Linked DNA regions of Homo sapiens: region 1 is linked to region 2. The links come from fine-mapping of genetic effects on gene expression. Tissue or cell type: sigmoid colon. Region 2 holds a variant in brackets; the other region holds the start of a gene. All regions are shown on one strand. Distances are between the middles of the regions.

Evidence for each region. PIP is the estimated chance that this variant, and not a neighbour inherited with it, causes the effect.
Region 1: it holds the start of SLC5A6, and the variant in region 2 is fine-mapped to the expression of SLC5A6 in sigmoid colon (GTEx, PIP 0.95).

The regions. Positions count from the first base shown.
Region 1 is chr2:27,209,221-27,214,362 of GRCh38, forward strand. SLC5A6 (solute carrier family 5 member 6) reads right to left here and starts at 3,048. Exons shown (of 17, transcript NM_021095.4): 1 at 2,800-3,048; 2 at 2,247-2,313. ATRAID (all-trans retinoic acid induced differentiation factor) reads left to right here and starts at 2,821. Exons shown (of 7, transcript NM_001170795.4): 1 at 2,821-3,247; 2 at 3,957-4,078. The coding sequence starts at 3,149. RefSeq lists enhancers at 891-950, 905-1,702 and silencers at 2,485-2,804, 2,995-3,244.
Region 2 is chr2:27,133,761-27,138,902 of GRCh38, forward strand. It overlaps PREB (prolactin regulatory element binding), which reads right to left and starts at 876. Exons shown (of 9, transcript NM_013388.6): 1 at 527-876. The coding sequence starts at 661. It overlaps PRR30 (proline rich 30), which reads right to left. Exons shown (of 3, transcript NM_178553.4): 3 at 3,088-4,934. The coding sequence starts at 4,569. The coding sequence ends at 3,331. RefSeq lists a silencer at 595-694 and enhancers at 633-1,289, 765-814. The variant G/T (reference allele first, on the strand shown) is at 2,973.

The DNA of each region.
Region 1 (5,142 bases), 75 kb after region 2:
TGTTCTCCAAGCGTATCATATTGTCTTCAAAGGCAATCCTCTGGGGTACTTATTGGTATGAGGAAAAAACACCAGAGAATGCCATGTAGTTACACAGCCTAACATGACGACAGTTAACATTTGCTGAACACCTGCTATGTAACCCAGCAGTGTGTGAGGTGCTTTATAAACATTAGTAATAATACATAATGAAGCTAACATTTTCAAAACAGCATGTCTCAGATTAAGACACGAATACTCTCCAGTTAACACAAGAAAACTGAGAGATTAAATAACTTGCTCAAGGTTATGCAGCATGATACAAAACAAGAGAGAGAGAAACAGTGCTGTCTGCAGCTATGACAGGTGTTCAGCAAGGGCCCTGTCCTCACTATTCCCAGAACCAGGACAGGAGCAGAGTGTTGCAGTCAGTCATTCACAGGACATAGTTTAGATTTCAACTAATCAAGAGACAGACTAACATAAACTATGTCTTCTGCTTTTGCCCACTAGGAGAAAGATTAGGCTGCCTTTCCGCTCTCCCACAGTGTGTTCTTGGGCAGACACTGGCTGGCTGGCAAGATATGGCCTCATGCAGACTAAACCTGAACTCTGAACCTCTTGGGGCCAATAAAGAGGGAAAATCAGACCTGGCAACTCTTGGATCACATGTTCTACAAGATTCCCAACAGGCTTAAACTCTGGTTTAACCTAAACATGCCCTGGGCCTTTGCACATTGCAACACCCTGAGTTTTCTCATTCGTCTTTGGCAAGTTTTTACTGCTATGATAGAGATGATGGGAACTACTGGGGAGTAAGAGGAAAGAAGAGGTCTCCTGTGTGCAAAGAACACAGAACAAAGAACTAACTATAGGGTTAGTGGTTTAGAGAGGTAGGTGGCCAGAGACAGGAAGGAAAGTCCCAGTATGGGACACGGAGGTACAGAAATAAAGACACTCTGCTGATGGGACTTCCTGATAAAATTCTATTTGCATGATGTATGGAGAATTCCCCTGGATGGCCTGAGAGAGCCCCAGGGAAGACAGGAAAAACCTGACCTAGCAACAGACCAGATTCTGAGAACAGATCTGTAGTTTTCTAAACACCCTACATTGATCCAAACGCTATGGTCTCGCATCTCTCCAGAAAGAGGGCGGCCAAAAGCAAGAGCTAGCTGTTGTTTCACTACAACTATAACATGCCAAGGCACAAACAGCAGATTGTGGGACCCCCCCCCCTTTTTTTTTGGAGACGGAGTCTCGCTCTGTCGCCCAGGCTGGAGTGCAGTGACACGATCTCGGCTCACTGCAACCTCCACCTCCTGGGTTCAAGTGATTCTTCTGCCTCAGCCTCCTGAGTAGCTGGGACTACAGGCATGTGCTACCGCGCCCAGCTAATTTTTTTTTTTTTTTTTTGTATTTTTAGTAGAGACGAGATTTCACCATATTGGCCAGGCTGGTCTCAAAACTCCTGACATGACGATCCACCTGCCTTGGCGGATCGGTGGCCTGGCCACCGCGCCAGGCCAAGTTCAGGTTTTTAAAAGGGGTCCCACATCACTGCCTGTAATCCCAGCACTTTGGGAGGCCGAGGCGGGCAGATCACGAGGTCAGGAGATCGAGACCATCCTGGCTAACACGGTGAAACCCCGTCTCTACTAAAAAATACAAAAAATTAGCCAGGCGTGGTGGCAGGCGCCTGTAGTCCCAGCTACTCGGGAGGTTGAGGCAGGAGAATGGCGTGAACCCGCGAGGCGGAGCTTGCAGTGAGCCGAGATCGCGCCACTGCACTCCAGCCTGGGCGACAGAGCGAGACTCCGTCTCAAAATAAAAATAAAAATAAAAATAAAAACCTGAACTCACTTTGGTCACACACTGCAGTGGATCGCATTGACTCCTACAAAAGGCAATGAGACCACTGCAGGACTAACTGTTCCAAAAAGATTCCCTCAAAATCTGTCCTGGGGCCTATAATTCCTCAAGGTGTGAAAGGCTTTGGGGGCCCTCCTTAAAATGCTAATAGCTACTAACACCTTAGAAAATTTGCCAGCCAGCTAAACGTAAACCTTTCAGGAACTTCCAGGCAGACACCATGGGGGTAATGTGGAAGGGAAGCCTGGCTCGGCTACTCGAGATGATCACTTGGGTCGGCTTTAAGGAGCTTTCTGGCTGGCCCTAACCAACACTGTCGCGCCGGGAGCAGGGATCCCCTGGCGCCCTTCAGTCAGGGCGCTGGCCCACCCTGGGGCAGCAACGCACTCCCTTACCTCCGTGGTTCAGTCAGAGCTAGGAAGGTCCCTTTGTGCTTCCTGAGATCAACATCGCTCCCTTTTCCTGGGAAGGCAAAGAAAATGAGTTAGGGAAGCGTCTATCCCGCTCCTACCTCCTCGCCAGGCTCCGGGACGCTATGCGCTATCAGCATTGAGGTGAAGAGGACTAGGTGCCCGGGGCGATCCAGGCTCGTGTCCTCCCGCTGGAGTTTGAGGTTTGCCCTTCCCTCATCACCCTCACCCTCGTTCTTTCTCGGTTTCCCGCTTCCCTCTACGCGGCGGAGACCACCACCTTACCGCTCGCACTTAAGATCTCAGACCCACGCCGGAGGCCGGCTCGCTCCGCCCCTCCCCGCCCCCTTGTCCCCGCCCCGGCTCAGACGCCGCTCCCCGGTGCCTCTCGGCACCGGCTCACGCTCTCCAGGCCCACCTGCCCGGTCTCCACACGTGGGTAGCCAGAGCCCGGCCGAGAGCCCTGGCCGGGAGCCCGCGGGGGCCCCGCCCCCTGCCCGCCCCCTGCCCGCCCCGCTCGCCGTGCCGCCATGTTTACTGAGGGCGGATGGAGGGGCCCGAGTTTCTGCGAAGCCGCGACCTCGGCGTCCGGACGCGGGGAACACCGGGCTGAGGGAGTCTGCAGTCGGCTCCGGGAAGCCGCGCGGCGACGGGGGAGGCCTTCACTAAAGGGGAAAAGGAAGAGGGGGTCGGCCAGTATCCCCGAAAGAGGGCTAGGGCGCATGAAGACCAGCGCAGAGCTCCACGAGCAGGAAAAGCCCCCAAGCAGCCCCAGGGCGACTGGACCGGGCCGCTTAGGCCACGCCCGGGGAAGAGGGCCTGACGCGCTGCGGGGCGGGGCCGCGGGGCCGGGTCGCGCGAGCAGCGGAGCACCAAGGGAACGGAAAATGGCGCCTCACGACCCGGGTAGTCTTACGACCCTGGTGCCCTGGGCTGCCGCCCTGCTCCTCGCTCTGGGCGTGGAAAGGGCTCTGGCGCTACCCGAGGTACAGAAGCAAGTTTGAGGTCGGGCTGAAGCAGGGTCGCTGGCCAGCCGTGCGTCGCGCTCGCCAGCGGCTCCCCCTTCTCCTCGGCGGGCCTGCGGTTCTGATTTCGTCCCTGACGCTTCCCGACCCTGCCCAGCCAGGTCCTGTTCCCAAGTACTCACGTCGTGCAGGCCTTCGGCGCCCCAGTCCTGCCGACTTTCAAAGACCTGTGAAACTTGATTTCGCCCCTTAATTTTAGAATAACTTTAAGTTCTTTCTACAGACGGGTCCTCTGCCTCTTGTGTAATCTCTCTACGCACGAACGCCATATATCGTGCGGTGGTAGGGCTGTACTTTTGTAATGCTTGATGAGTTCTTTACGTACCTGCGGTCGTTTTACACCGCGCCAAACTAGGGCTGTCAGATTGAGAAGTCTCTGCAGAAAGCATAATAAATAAGTTCGAATAGTGATCTTCAGAGATGAGGACCTTCCCTGTGCGATATCTGGTACTGAAAGTGTCGGGAGCTGATTCGGCGCAGGACTCTGGAGGAAGAGATGGCATCTCCTAGCCTAGCCTGTTACAAGGGTGGGACACGAGCCGTTTATCCATTTATCGGCCCCGTGTTAGAGGAATTCTGGAAACGTGTACTGGCAGTTAATTCTTGATCGCCGTTTGTTCTTTTCTTGGCTTTTCTTTCTGGAGTTCTAATGTTTCTTTCTCTTCTGCAGATATGCACCCAATGTCCAGGGAGCGTGCAAAATTTGTCAAAAGTGGCCTTTTATTGTAAAACGACACGAGAGCTAATGCTGCATGCCCGTTGCTGCCTGAATCAGAAGGGCACCATCTTGGGGTGAGGGGAAGACATCCCTAGATGCTGGATACAGGCCATTCCTTAGCCTGGCTGCTTTTATACCCTTATATTATTTAAAGAATCCACCTATTATGGTTTCAGCTGTAATCATCACGCAGATGTCTACCAAAACTAGATCTCTTTAGTGTCTTTTTTAACCTTTCCACACTCCAGGTACATACGGGTACCTCTAGCTTCCTATTAAGCATTTCCTACTGAGTGCACCCTAACTTCAAACTCAAAATGTTATGTTTTGCTTCCATTCTCTTCTTTCCTTCATCTACCTAAATACTTCTCTGTATTAAGCTTTTAGAAAACCAACATTTTCCATTATCACTCTCTTGCTTTAATACTATATTTAGTATTAAATTTTGTCTCAGGACAAAATTCAAACCATTAAGTACCATACTAGTCCCAACCCACTTTTCCAACATTATTTCCAATTACTTGTCCGCTCAAACCTCCATAATGGTCTGCACCAGCCAGATTTGCCTGCCCTCAAAGGCATTCCACCTTTGTTCAGGCCTCTCTCCATACCTGAAATTGCCTTCCTCTACCAAATTAGGAAATATCCATCCTTCAATTCCAACATCTTTTGTGAATATTTACTACTACTAAGTTCCAGAGTAATACCTTTTTTAAATTATTATTTATTTATTTTTTTGAGACGGAGTTTCACTCTTGTTGCCCAGGCTGGAATGCAATGGCATGATCTCGGCTCACCGCGCCCTCCACCTCCTGGGTTCAAGCGATTCAGTAATACCTTTTTTAAAAACTTCCTGTAATCTTTAGTGTCCACTCAAATATATTTATACACTGTCCTGTGGTTTCTTTTATATTGTAATTTAATGTTTACAGTGCTTTTATTTTTGGGCAGTGCTCTTGTTCCTCTAACTACATTGTAAGCCACTCAAAGGCCAAAATACTGTGTTACATATTTTTAACATTCTCCCAGTGTTTGCAGTTTGTAGGGACTCAGTAAATATTTGTAGAATAAAGGAATGGATAGCAGTAGATATTGAAGAAAAAAATAACGTGGCATGATCCTTAATGTCCAGCAGTTT
Region 2 (5,142 bases):
CCCAGAGAGCACGTTTAGGGAAGAGTCTGATGTCTTACCCCTTTGCTTTCTGCACGTTCTAGTTCACAAGGGTTTCTCGAGTCTTTTTTCTCTCATTTGGGCCTCACAAATCTACACAGTGAGCAGGACTGGGATTATTACCTCTATTTTACAGAACAGGGTGAAGCTCAGGAGAGGGAAGGAACTTAGCCTAAACCCAAATGCACCACTCTCGCCGCTGCTAGAGGGCAGGCAAGACCTCCCGGAAAAGGCCAGTATAAGACCCCTGGAGCTGCTCTGAGGCGGAGCTGAAGCGTTCCTGGCGACTCTGCAGCTGTGTGCAGTTTTCACTTTACCTTAAAAGCCTCTCCTCCGCCCGCTGAGTTCTCGACTGAAATTCGCCCCTGGGCGTCAGGCAAGCGGGTCTTCCCAACAGAAGTGGGCAGGGCCCGAAGCTGGAGTGTGGCCCGCCCCGCGACCCCCCGGCCACCCTGGAATCGCCGCCAGCCCGCAGCAAGACCCAGCCCCAGTGGCCCTGCGCTCTCACCACGCCATTCTTTATGCCTGTCTTGGCGGCGCCTCCTCCGCCCGCAGCGATGAGCAGCCCAGTGCTGGGGTCGACCTGAAGCGCGTACAACGGGAACGGAGCCCGGTACAGCTCTGGCGCCCGGCGCCGGCCCATCCCGCCCGGCGCGCGTTCACTGCCCGCACCGCGGCACCCAGGACATGCCGCGCCGGGCCTTCGACTACTGCCCCGGCGGCTGGTGAACTCGGCCCCGTCGCCGCCGGGAGCACTCCCTACCCCTCTCACACCGGGGAGTTGCCAAAACCCTGACCATCAGCAGGAAGCCGAGCCTCAGCTCGGCTCCGTCCAAGTCGGTCTCGCAGACGCGCACTGCGCATGCGCACCTGTCTCGCGGCTCCCTCCGCGCAGGCGCAGGAGCGCCGACACGCGTCAGCACTAGCCGGCCGCGGGGCCGCGTTTCCCGGGGCGGGGCTTCGGTTCTCCACCCCTGGCGCGGAGGCAGAGTCGCCCAGCACCGACTTCGCCATTTTTGTGCGGGGCGCGGGGCGCGGGCGGAGGAGGTGGAGCCAATGGAGGTTGATGAAGGTCAACCTTTAATAAAGAAATCCGACTCGCGCCTGTAATCCCAGCACTTTGTGAGTCCTAGGCGGGCGGATCAGGAGTTCGAGACCAGCCTGACCAACATGGAGAAACCCCGTCTCTACCAAAAATACAAAGGGCGTGGTGGCGTGCGCCTGTAATCCCAGCTACTCGGGAGCCTGAGGCAGGAGAATCACTTGAACCTGGGAAGTAGAGGTTGCAGTGAGCCGAGATCGCGCCATTGCCATTGCTCTTCAGCCTGGGCAACAAGCAACAAGAGTGAAACTCCGTCTCAAAAAAAAAAAAATCCTCTGCCAGGCACGGTGGTTCATGCCTGTAATCCTCCTGTAATCCCAACACTTTCGGAAAGTCCGAGAGAGGAGGATGGCTTGAGCCCAGGCTTTCGAGACAGCCTGGGCAACATGGGGATCCGTCCCTACGAAATATTTAAAAATTAGCCAAACATCGTGGCACCTGTGGGCCCAGGTGCCCAGGAGGCTCAGGCGGGAGGATCACTTGAGACTGGGAGGTCGAGGCTGCGCTGGACCACCAGTGATGTCACCACTGCACTCCAGCCCCTGGGCAACAGAGCTAGACCCTGTCTCTCACACACATAAAATCCTCAAATAAGGACTGTTCCCATCTGAGGAGTGATATGCCAACTCCTAGGAGCACAGGCCTTTGCATCTTACCTCAGAGAGGAAGTGATTTGCCCGAGGGCACACACCAGAAACCACCGGAGTCTCTTGCTTCTTAACGGAGGCAGCATGAACTTAAAAATAAACCTGACTTCAAATGCTGAATCCATTGCTTCCTCGTATGAGGACACGTCTGTCATCCTTAACGCCTATCGCCCACTTTTGGCAGGGGTGGTGTCTGCCATTCCCTTTCTCAAGGCTTCACACTCCTGGGCTGGTGGCTTGGTGGGTGGCCAGCTGCTTTGCTGGCCTCAGAGGGGGCAGTTTGGCTCCCGGGCAGGTATCTTCTGCGCCTGACACTCCATTCTCCCTCGGGTTTCTGATCTGATGAGGACCTTTGTGCACTCCTGAGAGCGAGCACAAGGGATGTCCTTCCCTGCAAAGAGACGCCCTCTCCTGCATTCTCATTAACCTAAGGTGCACCCAGAGGAATAGCGCAGTGGCTTCATCTTTGGGGATGCCAATATCTGTCCCACAGAGTTGAATTAGATGTGTGAAGGGCCTGGCCAAGCTCTCTGCATATCTCAAGTCCCCAGGCCTTGTGGGTCCCTTGTCCTCCTTGGATACATGGCACCTGCTCTTTCTGGCCTCTCCGTTTCCTTTGACACCACCCTCCAGGGTCTTTTTTATTTTTTGAGACGGAGTCTCGCTCTGTTGCCCAGTCTGGAGTGCAGTGGCCTGATCTCAGCTCACTGCACCCTCCACCTCCCAGGTTGAAGTGATTCTCCTGCCTCAGCCTCCTGAGTAGCTGGAACTACAGGCACCCGCCACCACACCCAGCTAATTTTTGTATTTTTAGTAGAGATGGAGTTTCACCATGTTGGCCAGGCTGGTCTCGTAACTCCTGACCTTAAATGATATGCCCACCTTGGCCTCCCAAAGTGCTGGGATTATAGGCATGAGCAACCACACCATGCCCTCTTTTTTTTTTTTTTTTTTTTGAGATAGGGTCTCTGTCACCCAGGCTGGAGTGCAATGGCATGATATAGCTCATTGCAACCTTGAACTCCTGGACTCAAGTGATCCTCCCACTTTAGCCTCTTGAGTAGCTGGTAGTACAGGCACGCGCCACCATACTCAGCTAATTTTTTTATATTTTTGTTTTTGGAGAGACAGGGTCTTGCTATGTTGCCCAGGCTGGTCTCAAACTCGTGGCTTCAAGTGATCCTCCTACCTCAGCCTTCCAGTGT[G/T]TTGGGATTATAGGCATGAACCACCCCCTCCCCGCCACCAAGGGTCTTGTTAGGGACTGGCACCCCTATAGTTACAGCCACCTATTCTGTGGACTCAGCAGGACGCAAACACAAGTTTCACAGGGTCAGACTTTATTAGATACACGGAGGGCTGAATGGGGCCTTGGTGCCCTTGGTCCTCTTCAGCCTGGAGACAGCAGACTCCACAAGGGGCTCCCAGGGTTCAGAGCAGGAGAACACACCTGACCTCCGGCCAGCCAGCCCTTCAGGGTGTCTCGGGGACTCCCCGAGATCTGGGGCCTGGTTGGGAGGGTTGGGTTTGGAGGGGGTGTTCCAGGGGGCCTCCGTGGCTCTGGAACTAGACTGATGACTTTTGGAGAATGAGCTCCAGAGAAACTGGCCTCTTTGGGCCAGGGCAAGGCCTGGGCTTCAGGGAGGTAGTGACCTGTTTTGGTGCCCGAGGTGGAGGCCCGGAGAAACATCGTGGGGAGTTTGGTGATTGAAGGCCTGCAGACCTGAAGCTCCTGGTCTGGGAGGGTGTGCCTGGGACTGGGTCGGCCCGGGCCTGAGCTGCTGGAGGCTGAGATGCTGGCAATTGATGCCCACAGGCCTGAGTAGCCTTGCCCTGAGGCCCTGCTTCCTTCGGCCTTTTCTCGGGCAGCAGATGCAAGGCCCTGGCCTGGCCCTGAGGCAGGCGGAGGCCGAAGCCGATGCCTATCCGGAGTGGCCCAGATTCCTGGCCCTGCACACAGGGCAGTAGTTGAGGGAAAGCAAGCAGCCGGGGTCCAGTCCTGTACCTGGGGAGGGGGCAGGAGGGGCTGCGGGGCCGGAGGCACACCAGGCATATAGGATACTCCACGACTGGGGCCTGGCCGGTTCTGCCTAGCCACAGGTGCTGCAAAAGCAGTAGCCGCAGGTCGTGTGCGATGCGGCGGTGCCCCAGCTGGACCACCAGGGCCTGGGCCAGGGCCCCTGGGTCCCTGAACTGTGCAGGATCCTTCTCGCTTGGCACGCATCTCTCCACCACTCCAGGGGACCCGGACCCAGTGTCCCTGTACTGATGCCAGCGCCATGTCTGCCTGTTAGAGTGGAGCCTATGAGAAGGTGGGCTGGGGCCTGGGGAAGTGAGTGTGGAGCTATGCAGTTCCTCGGGGTGGGAAGGGGACTGGCAAGGTGAGTGGGGAAGGGAGGAGTTCTGAGGCTGGGAGGGAGAAAAGGAAGGGGTCAGAGGGGGAGAGGGGTACAGCCAGTGGTTGGAGGGAGAGGATGCACGTGGACGGGGGAGAGAGAGGTAGTTCTGGTGAAAGAAAGTAGGGGAACTTGGGAGAGAGGGAGAATAGGGATGTGGAGCAAAGTCAGAATTTGAGTCACAAGAGCCGAATTGGAAGCCAGGAGAGGGGGATGCTGGTGGAGGGGAGGAGGGACGACGGGACTGAGTGGAAGAGAACGGTGGTTGAGAGGGAGGGAGGCCCTGATGGGGAGAGAGAGGCTGTAGGTTGTGAGGAGAGGAGTCCACAAGTTGTGAGAAGCCCCAAGTGGGGCGCCCAGGGAGCACTGAGGTCTGTGGCAGCACCTGGTCCTTGTTTTGAGGCAACATCGCCTTGAATCCAGAAGGAACTGGGGCAACAAGACTAGGGATAAGAGACCTGGCAGAGTCAGGACCAGTATCTCTGAGGTCAGCTGTGCCTGAGAAATCAAGGCCACCTTCTGTGCGCAGAGCGTGGCTCCAGCCTGGTGTGGGTGCAGGTGCTGGTGGCAGGCCAAGGGGATACCCAGCCCTCCAGCACCAGGCTCTCAGGGTGTTCAGGCATGAGCATGAATCTAAGCTTGGCTTCTCACTTCTTTGCAGTCAACCATTGATGAGGGATGTGTGGGGATGGAGAATCACAGCTGCATCTTGGGAGTGGAGGGGCAGCAGCGATTATCTGGGTGGGGCAGAGAGGAAGACAAAGCCCATAGGACCTGGAGAGAAAAGAGAGAACCCAAGACATTGGGAGAATTGGTCCATTTCTGGCTCTGCCTCATATCCCCAGTTCCAAGCTGAACTCACCAAGACTTTAAATCCATGTCACCTTTGGGATCAAAAGAACTGGCAAAATGCTCCAGGGAAGGTGAGAAGTGGGGAGGAGAGGAATAAGGAGGAAGGGAGGGTAGGATGGAGTTGGAGGAG